Regions from separate parts of the Homo sapiens genome. Here region 2 is linked to region 1. The links come from fine-mapping of genetic effects on gene expression. Tissue or cell type: esophagus mucosa. Region 1 holds a variant in brackets; the other region holds the start of a gene. All regions are shown on one strand. Distances are from middle to middle.

Evidence for each region. PIP is the estimated chance that this variant, and not a neighbour inherited with it, causes the effect.
Region 2: SNX5 starts here. The variant in region 1 is fine-mapped to the expression of SNX5 in esophagus mucosa (GTEx, PIP above 0.99).

The regions. Positions count from the first base shown.
Region 1 is chr20:17,930,369-17,935,742 of GRCh38, reverse strand. No RefSeq gene overlaps it. Among named protein-coding and RNA genes, the nearest start is that of SNORD17, 30 kb to the left of the region's middle. RefSeq lists a silencer at 4,021-4,221. The variant A/G (reference allele first, on the strand shown) is at 3,101.
Region 2 is chr20:17,966,551-17,971,887 of GRCh38, reverse strand. SNX5 (sorting nexin 5) reads left to right here and starts at 3,094. Exons shown (of 13, transcript NM_014426.4): 1 at 3,094-3,513. The coding sequence starts at 3,463. MGME1 (mitochondrial genome maintenance exonuclease 1) reads right to left here and starts at 2,870. Exons shown (of 5, transcript NM_052865.4): 1 at 2,747-2,870; 2 at 1,518-2,087. The coding sequence starts at 2,028. RefSeq lists enhancers at 1,876-2,005, 2,026-2,225, 1,165-2,364, 2,946-3,255, 2,872-3,626 and 3 more and a silencer at 3,256-3,465.

The sequences.
Region 1 (5,374 bases):
TTTATTTTTTACAGAGACAGGGTCTACCTGTATTGCCCAGGCTGGTCTCGAACTCCTGAGCTCAAGGGTTCCTCTCACCTCGGCCTCCCAAAGTGCTGGGATTGCAGGCGTGAGCCACTGCGCCCAGCCAAGTCTGGCACTTCTCTATTAAGCACCTGGAATGTGGCTGGTGCAATTGAGGAAGCTAAGTTTTTATTTTGCTTAATTTTAATTAATTTCTGTTTAAATAGTCACATGAGCCTAGGGGCTACTGTATTAGACAGTTGCCCCCGCAAGACACTCACATCTTCCTAGCTGAAGCCCCAGATGTTATGTAACAGAGACGAGTCATTCCCACTAAGGCCTGTCCAGACTCTAGCCTCCCAGAAGCCCAAGCACAATAAAATGGTGGTGGTTTTATTGTGGTTGTTTCCTGCATGAAATGTGGGGTGGTTTGTGATCTGCAAGTGTAGCTGAGCTCCCCTGACCTCTGTGAACTTCCCTCCTGTGCCATCCCTCTCCTTCATCCCCATCCAGCCACACCTGTTCCAGGACACCCCAGGCTCTCCTGCGCAGGCCCTCTGTTCCAGTTGTCCCTGTGCTTGGGATGTTCCCACCCAACCCTCCCCACCCCCCACCAAAGATTCTGATATCAATAGTACAGGGTACAGCCTAAGTATTGGAGGTTTAACATGTCTTCACCTGGTGGTCCTGATGTACAGCTAGGGTTGAGAACCAACCACTTGTTTAGTTCAGTCACAGTTACATCCTGTGAGCCGGGGCTGTTTTACAGATGAGGAGAATGAGACTCCAGGAGATTCAGCCAGGCCCCAGAGTCAGAGGGTGAGAAATGGTGCATCCCGGTAAAATGTTGGGTCCTCCCCCTACTGTGCAAGGACAGGTTTGACCTGAAGGCAGAAGCCTGGGCTGAGGCCCCTGAACTTTGGAGGGGCCCTCAATCCCCCAGGAGGTAGCCGGCGACCTCCCCTGGCCTTCCTCCCCCATGGCTGGGCCTCTTTCCTTAGCTAATCAGGCTGATGAAAGGCCCTGCTGCCTGCCCACTCCCTCTCTGTAATTTGCTCGTCCTTCTCTCTAATTTTATAGCCTCCTCAGCAGTTTCCCAAAGATCGGGGGCTCAGTTTCCACTGGACCCCCCTCCCTGGCTTAATGAAAGGGGCTGCTTTGCAGCCACTGACTAGCTAAGGGTGGGGATCATTCTTAAAGCCCTAGGGGATGGGAAGATGTGTTGGCAAATGTTTTAGAGCAGGGGCCAACAACCCCTTTTGTCCGCCAAGTGCTATCCTAAGTCCCTTTTTAGCCACTTCTTGAGAAAGGCCCTTACAAGAAGAAGCGGGCGGGAGGCGGCGAGGCCGACTGCTGGGTGTGGAATGTCCGGCTCTGGGTGGTAGCCTCCTTGTATTATTGCCTTATGTTGCGGTTTAACTGCTCTTGCTCATTTTCCTCGGGGTCTTATTTCCCCGGCTGGATTGCAGCTCCCTTAGGGTAAAGACTCTGTGATGTGTTTGAATCACCCAGGCCTCCCAGGGTTCTGCCTCTGTCTCACTCCCTGGCACCGGTGACCATGGCCAAGCTCCTGAAGCTCATCCCTTTCCACGTTGGTAAAATGGGAGGGGGGTTACTCTGAGCACAAAAGGAGAGTCCAGTTAGTGAAGGGGCTGCCACCCCTGCCTGCCCCGGAGAGGTGTTTGGAATACCGGTCCTATCTCAGGGGAGAGTCGTAGTTGCCACTAGGAGGAGGGGCTGTGAGCGCTGAGGTAGGCCATGCACAGCCTCAGTGAATGCTTAATGAACATGACCTTGGTGTTCTCTTATGGGCCCCTGCCCATCTCCTGGCTGCAGCTATGCACACAGTAGACTTTCAGTCTATGCTGTCTGTGCCTTTGCATGCAGAGCCATTGGTCTGGGGACTAATTCTAGGGGTTTCATTTCTGTAAAAGAGCTCCTGTCTTTGGGCTTCCATGGTGTAGCCAGGCTGGGCTAGCAGCTCTCCTGCGGCAGTGCAGAGCCTGCTCTCCTGGCTCTGGCTGGGGCTGGCCCTTTGCTCAAGTGCCTCTGGGGGCAAAGTCGTTAGCCAGGTGGGCTTGGAAAATTCAATACCCAGCCTGAAGATGGAGGGTCCTCCCCTTCTCATGGGTCTCCTCTGCTGAAATGCCTCCCTAGAGTCACCCTTTGCTCTCCATCCCCTCCCCTGGGATCAGCAGTGCTGTTCTCAGTTTTCCTCAGGGCCCTGGACCCCCAAAGTCACCTGCAGTTCCTTCCTGCACACCCAGTGGCATCCTACATCAGGACCTGCCTGCCTCTCTTCTCAAGGGCACCCCTGATGGCAGGGGCACACTCCACCAAGCTGGGAATGCCCAGAGTTAGCACACACTCCTACTGGGGCTTCCTGGGGCCATCCCCCCACAAAATGCTTCTGCTTGAATCTTCCTTTTGGGTCAGCTCTTGGGGAAAGCTGGGCTAAGGCAACATTACCAAGCAGTCACACGTGAATTCCAGGGACTCTTGCTCTGTGGTTTTCATCCCAAGTTGCAGAGGATTTCCCCTGAGTGCCCAGGAGGGCAGGAGGGCTTCTGACCAGGGCAGGAGGTGCCATGGGAGATGGCTGGGTGAGGCCAGCCAGAGGCTGCGGGGGACCCTCCCCCTCACCCCTCTTCCTCAGCCTTCCTGACGCTCTGAGAGTTGAGGGGACCCCTGGCCAAGGTCTAACAGCCCCTGATGTTTTCTTTCCTTTGGTAGCTTTGCATGAAATGATGAAAGTCTATTTAATGAGGTGCTGGGATTGTCAGAGGCTTCTCACTGTTGAGAAGTTTTTTTTGTCTCCCTGTTAGGGACTGTTCAGGTCTCAATGCAAGTTAGGAGAAGAAAAGGCTCAGACCAGGGATCCCTGATGCCTGGCCCAGCTCTTGGTGGTGGGAGGAGGTGCCTCTGTCCAATGGCCTGAGGGAGCACCAGGCAAGATGTGCCACAAGATACCTGTGTCCCTACACCTGCACTAGTCTCTCCGCCTCAGTTATCTCACCTGAGAAACAGGGCTGGAGAGTGGGGTCTGCAGACCCCATTAGTGGGTTGCAGGAAAGGAGGAAGTCCCTTTACACTCTAG[A/G]GGGTTATTCAAGTGCAGTGACCACTGTCATTCAGGGATTGAGGGCCCAGAGCCAGGCGGGCAGCTGGGAGGTGCCCAGAATACGTCTTCTTAGTGAGAGCGCTGTGGCCAGCTGGATGGGAGCCCCTAAGGCAAAAGATGAACTTGTTTATTCCACAAATATCTGAACCCCTACCAGGTGCTGGGCGCTAATAGTGGTAGACAAAATAGAGAATCTCCTTGCCCCCATGACACTCATATTCCATGGTGTGTGTGTTGGGGGAAGAGAGACAATAAACAAATAAGCAAGTAAATACATAAAGAAGCGAGGTGGTAAGTGCTATGGCAAGATATATACGAAGGAGAGTGATGGGAGAGGGGCTTTTTATATGGACTGGCCAGGGGAGACCTCACTGAGCAGAGACCTGAAGGCAGTGAGAGAGAAAAGGCCCATGGAGTTTGCAGGGAGTGGGGTTTCAGGCAGAGCAAAGAGCAAGGGCAAAGGTCATAAGTTAGGGGCATGTTTAGTGTGTTTGTCAGCTGTTGTTAGCTACATAACAAACTACCCCCAAACTGTTTATTTTATTTATTTATTTATTTTTGAGAAGGAGTCTTGCTCTGTCGCCCAGGCTGGAGTGCAGTGGCATGATCTCGGCTAGCTGCAAGCTCTGCCTCCCGGGTTCACACCATTCCCGCCTCAGCCTCCTGAGTAGCTGGGACTACAGGTGCCCACTACCACACCCGGCTAATTTTTTTTTTTGTATTTTTAATTTTAGTAGAGATGGGGTTTCACCATTCACAGGATGGTCTTGATCTCCTGACCTCATGATCCACCCACCTTGGCCTCCCAGAGTGCTGGGATTACAGGTGTGAGCCACTGCACCCAGCCCAAACTATTTATTTCTAATGGCTGTGCTCAGCTGGGCAGTTCTTCTGGTAGCTGGGCTCACTCAGTTGTCAGAGGTCAACTTCCAGGTCTGCTGGGGCCAGCTGGCTGGCTCAGAATGGGGTCAACTGAGATAGCTTGTCTTAGTTCTGTGTGGGCTCTCATCCTCCAGTGGGCTAGCCCAGGCTGTTCTCATGGCAGCTGGGCGGGGTTCCAAGAGAGTGAGTAGAAGCTGCAAGGCCCTTGAGGTCCACTTGGAACAAGCACACCATCCCTTCTCCTGCATTTCACTAACCAAAACAACTTACAAGGGCAGCCTAGATTCAGGGGGAGGGAAAACAAACTCTATCTTTTGATGGGAGAAGTGGCAAAGATTACAGCCACTTTTGCCATTTACTATATAATCCCCCATTTTGGGGGGGTGAGAAACCAGGCCTCAGAGAGGCAAAGGCACAAGCCACTTGCCCAAGACCACACACTGCTGAGATTCACATCCATGCCTATGGGTTTACCTTCATGATTTGTGCCTTTTCCAGTATTGACTGTCTTTTGTTTATCCATTAAGTTTCTTAAATTGATTTTTTAATTTCCCCAAAATTACATGTTAAGGTAGAAAATACAGAAAAGCAAATAAATCACTGCAATGGCAAGACCCAGAGGTGATGTGCCAAAGCAACCCTTCAGGCTTGTTTCCCACACGCACATGTGACTCCATACCCCAGCTACACACACACACACACACACACACACACACTCAAATACTTTCTCAGGTGGTGTCTTTATCTCATGTGAAAATAAAGAAAAAGTGGCCACAGGCTTGGTGCCATGTCTCACACCTGTAGTCACAGCATTTTGGGAGGCTGAGGCAGGAGGATAGCTTGAGGCCAGGAGTTCAAGCTCAGCCTGGGCAGCATGGAGAGACTCCATCTCAAAAAAAAAAAAAAAAAAAAGAACAGCGGCCACAGGGAGATTTCATCTCTAGGAGGGTCAGATAATTTGGAGATATTTATGTTTTTAAAATCACGCAGCCTGGGCAACATAGGGAGACCCTGTCTCTACCAAAAAATAAAAAAATTAGCTGGGCATGGTGGTGTGTGCCTGTGGTCCCAGCTACTTGGGAGGCTGAGGTGGGAGGATCATCTGAGCCCAGAAAATCAAGGCTGCAGTGAGCTAGTGATTGCACCATTGCACTCCAGCCTGGGTGACAGAGCAAGACCCTGCCTCAAATAAAATAAAATAACAAATAATCAGAACGGGCCTGTGGAATAGTGACTAAATGCCAGTAGCATTTTGGGGTCCAGGTTTAGATGAGTCTTCAACACCAGAGTGACTTTTTGGATGGCGGGTGATGAGGACTGGGCAGGTGGTGGCCCAGGCGTGGGGAGGTGTCCACGGCAGGTGTTCTTGGC
Region 2 (5,337 bases), 36 kb before region 1:
GGTGCACGCCTGTGGTCCCAGCTACTCAGCAGGCTGAGATGGGAGAATCACTTGGGTCCCGGCGGTCAAGTCTGGGCGGGGTGCTGGGGTAAGCGATTCTGCTCATTTCTTAAGGTTGCTACTGAGTTAACTGAGAAACACAGCTGAGTGCTAATCTAGATCAACAAAGCTGACTCTATGAAAAAAAAAACAACCAGTCTTCTCTCTGCCTGGGCTATTGGGGCTCATTCACATTCCAAACAGAAATTCCTCTCTGGTGCACTTCCTTACTTTGTGCCAAGAGCTACAGGCCCTGGGGTCCCATGTGTTCCAGCAGGTTTCTGCCTTTTAATAATACATTTCTTATTAGTAATTTCAGCTGTACATTCCTGGTTTAAGGAAAATAACTTCTCATGAGAAAACTATCAATTCTAAATTTTAGTGGTACAAATACAAAACTGTAAGATGCCATTAGAAGATTTTTATGTTGCTTGCTTGGAAAGCAGACAATAGTTTGGTGGTTGCTACTAATTAACTATCTTAGGAAGGCAGTTAGCTCTTGCATATATAATCCTTGCCCCACACAGCTGAGGAATATTATAAGGAGCAAAGGCCTTGACCATTTGGTACATATCCAATACCACCTATATATACTTAGTATTTTTCTTTAGAACATGTGACATGTTTAATGTGTTACACGCATAGTTTTAGGAGTCTGGATTAGGGAAAAGACGACTTAAATAGAAGCCCAGGCTATGGCAAGGGTCAGTACACTATTCTTAAAACAAAAATGAAAGAGTTTGTGTACTACTAAGAGTACATGTACTGCACTTTGGGAAGCTTGGGTAAAGGAATGATTGATGTGAAACTTTCCTTTAACAAAAGACCCCTATATAATTTATGGGACTAGCTAATTCACCAGTGCCAATGGTCTTTGTTTTTGAATGGAATATTAAATTTAAGGAAGCTATTCTCCTCACTTGTCCAAGTTAGTAAATTAGAAGTTGAAGGTTAAAGTGTATTTATCCTCAGATCCTTATGAAGAACCTCTGATTATGTTTACCAAGGTCTAAATATAGGTCATGTGTTCTGGTCTGCTTCAAGGTCTTTAAATTTACGAGTCAGTTTACGCTAATAAGTAGGACAGTGGGTATTTACTGGATTCTAAACAGAATTATCTAGCAAACAACTAGAATTCTGTTACCAGGTGACTTTTTTCAATAATCAAGGAAAACAAGCAATTCTAATATTGTTGGTAGCTTATAAAACAAGTGAATTTTATGTATTATTTAGTCAAATATTTGATCTATTTTAGTTTCATCTGTAAAATGTGGATAACAGTATCTATACTCCACAGGACTACCATGAGGATCAAGTGAGTTAATACACATAAAGTGCTATTTAATGTTAATTACTATCTGAAGGGAGTTCCTTGCTAGTAAGTTAAAAAAACAAAACCAAACCTCATTCTTTTGACACCGTTGCTCTCTATTATAGAAAACATAGCAAACATATAGAATCAGAATTGAGATAATTACTTGAAGTGTATTCTTTAAAGCCATCTTCTCCCAGTTCCAGAATCATCCGCTGTTTCCACCTCTCCAACAAGAAAACCTGTTGTTTTGTCATGGTCTGCTGAAGGACTCGGGTCACACTTGGTATCACATTCCTTTGCAAGGGGATTTTCAAAGGAACTGAAGGATCACTTGCATTTGGTTTATCACTTCTCTCTGGATTGAAGATAGGAAACCAGTTTTGTGGCACTCGTCTGTCCTCACCTTGGTTTGGCAGCTTATGCTTGCTCACGGGTCCACAGAGCAAAGCATCTTCCTCCACCGATCCCGGGGTCTGGGCGACGCCTCTGGATGACAAGACAGACTGAACTAAATTAGAGTATTTTTCTTGGTCCACTTCTTCATATGGGTTCACTTTTTTCTTCCGGCCACATGAGTAAGAGGAAGTAGAGAAAGCCACAAGGGCAGCTGATTCCACAGAAAACTTTGAACTCCTGAGCTGCCTGCAAATGGTCTGAAATAACTTCATCTTCATTCAGATTTGTTTTCACTTTAGTCTATTTGCAACGGTCGAAGGCCTTTATGTTTGTATTCCTATTGGAGAGAAAACAACCATCAAAGCGAAAGCTGCATCAGAATGATATTGCACATCAAAATTGTGAACTTTTTCGACATGTTTGGACAGAGCCCTTTCTTAAGAAAGTCGACAGAGCGAGACCCTGCCTCCAAAAAAAATTTATAAATAAATCAAGACTCAATACCCGAAGGACCGACACATACTAAATGCGAATTAGTAGACAGCTTGAGGCAAGACGTCCCAGTTTCTAATCTGCAGGAATGTGACGCCCAGGAAGGGAGGCGTGTGCGAGACACGGAAAAACACAAAGATGGAGCCCGTCCCATGGCGGCCACACAGTCCTAGGTGACAGACGACGACTAATTCCTAGACACCAGGCTCTCTGCTAAGTATTCTGTGTGGATACTTCTCATTTGGTCCTCACACCCTCTACCGTGGGTCTAGAATGAACCCGTTGCACAGACGTGGAAATCGGGTTGGAGGGTCCCGTCGCTCGCCGGTCAGAGCTGGTGGCGGCGCTGAGGTCCCATTACTGTGACCGCAAAAAGTCGCCTCCCGCTCCGCCGTGGGTGCGGACCCCTGGCGGGGCCAGGACGGCGGTGGCCCCTGTGGCAGGAGTCTGGATTAGAGAAAAGACGACTTAAATAAAAGCCCAGCCTACGGCAAGTGTCGGTACCTTGGAAGCCACCACACTTCGCTTAACTCTCAAGGCGCGAACAACCTCTCGCGACCCGTACTTTCATCCGTCCCGCGCTTTGGTTTCGAATTAGGCACAGCCTAAGGCAAAGCAGGTCCAGAATGCCCCGCGGCGCTCACGCCCCACCCGAGGCTTTCGTCGGCCTCCGCCAACGCGCCACCAGTTAGAGGCAGGGAGTACCTCTCCGAGCGGAAGGGCCGGCGTCTCCGAAGCGCGGGAGCCTCCAAATCGCGCCCTTCTGCTCTCACGAGATCTGGTGACGTCAGCGCTCGCTGCCATCTTGGACTCGGGCTGAGTAATAAATTCCCCCCGCACCGAAACGCGGTCTTTCTCTAGACGCGTCTTGCTGGGAGAGTGTCCGTTGCTTCCCGTCCGTGTCGCGGCCCTGCGGTTGGCGGCCTCCTCGTGGAGCGGAGCAAGGGTAGGCCCCACGTGGCGTCTTTGCCCGGCTCCAAGATGGACGGCAGCGGGGACTGGGAGGCTGCTCTGGGGGAGCACGTGGCGCCCTGCTCGCCTGCTCCCGGGGCAGCTGGGATGGTGGCGGAGTCCGGAGGCCTCCTGCCGCCGTCGGGCAGGGAGGCCGGCGGAGGCGGGGCCGTGGCCGCCCCCGAGAGGCGCCCAGGCGGCGGCGGCGGCGGCCCAGCTTCTTCTTTCCTCGCACAGCCAGGCGGCCCCTGCTCGAGTCCCGCGTCGCCATGGCCGCGGTTCCCGAGTTGCTGCAGCAGCAGGAGGAGGACCGCAGCAAGGTGAGGTCCTCCCAGCCTCAGACTCCTGGGCGGGCGGCCCTGCGAGCTCCGGGGTCGCTGCATTCTTTCCCTTGCGCGTCCATAGGCCGTGGCTGCTCGCCGCCATCCCCAGCGCGGGAAGCACCCGTGAGACCCGGGCGGCCCCTCTCCCTGGTCTTCACTGAAGGCTGCCCCGGGGAATCCCTGTGGATGTCCCGGATTCTATTAGGACAGAACCAGAGACGCGGGACCTTAGCCCCAGCTCAGGCGCCGGTGCCGAGCGGACTTGGAGAGATGATCTCTGGAGACCCCGGAATGTTCTTTTTAAAACTTTCCTCGGCTTCGTGGTGACCAGTAGGTGAACGTGAAATTGACTTAACATGCGACAGACCAGTTTGGTTTGTTGCCCCCAAAATACCCTCCTTCCCCCCACCTTTTACTGAGAAGACTTTTTTGGGGGGGGGGCCCAAACAACTTGGGAAATTGCATCAAGCGTCCGAACATGCTGCTTACAACTTTAGAAACGCAAAATGCGTTGTTGTGGGAGTTGTGTAATTTTTAGTAGGTGCTCAAATACTTGCTGAACTTGGTGTCTATTTTTAAGTCTTGCCCATTGATGTAAACTGTCCCTAGGTCACGTGTATCTTGAGGTCTAAAAGATTATTTATGCAATAAATTGAAATTCCCATAGCCAATTAAAGATTCAGACGAGCCTCCACTCTTTTTCATTGGTTCTTTAAATTTGCCTCGGTAGCTTTGCGATGCATGGTTTGCGAGCAACCTTTCTTGCAGAATCGTCAACGTAAGTTTTTCTGACCGATGAAAAAGAACCTCTAAAAATACAAGGCTCTCTTAAAATGTAATTTGGAGCCGTCTTAACTTACACATTTCTTGAGAAGTTAAAGGCACCTCCATAGAGAAACTTGTTCATCTAGTAAGTAAATACCAGAGTTTCAAAGCGGCTGGATTGTTCCAACAAGGGTATCATTGCATTAATTATTAAAATAGAGCTTTCTATACAGGAGGGTGTTGTTTAGAGTGGTTTTTTTTTTGAAAGTTCTTTATTACTAAAACAAAGTGGAAACTTGAGACCACGATTCTTTGTAAAACATTATAAAGGTACTTTTCTCCATAAAGGGTAGATAATGGATTGGGATTTTGGTAGCATTTTATTTTTTCTTTCTTTCTGGTACATTCTTTTAGCTGTCTTGATTCGGAGTCAGCTAGGTAAAAGGACTCAATTGCTTCACCCCACTCTCTGGTAGTACAGTATATTGCAGCTGGTTTTTAAAATGACTTCCACCACCCTGATCCTCCAGCAAAATTGGAGAATGGTTATGAAGGCCATTTCCTGCCTGTTTTAGAGGCTACAGAAACTGTCCGTATCTGTAGCGAAGAGAGTTACATGACATTGTTTTCCTTTTTACATTACAGGAATAAAGAGACAATAAAAATAAATAATTACCCTGACGCGTGGCTTTATTTTTGTTTTCTGATCTCTGCTGATGCTGATAACCTGCTGTGGTCTGGCCTAGATGGTGTTATGGTTAACTGAAAGGGAGTTTGGGGCAAGTATGAAATAATGGGAAACTAAGTCTTGGGCAACTTTTTGCCATAATACAATTTCGGTAGTCAACTGAAATGTTTTGTGTGTTACCTGAAATGTGTGTTACTTAAATTGTTTAAATGCCCTCCTGATAATTTACTTTGGTTTGGAATTCTCCCTAAGGATGGAGTTAATTAAGACTCACTAAGGTAGGGGGACATACTTGATTCTTCAGGATTTTGAATTCTAGCCCAATACTCATTTTGGCCAATTCAGCAAAACTGAAAGGGAATACTGTG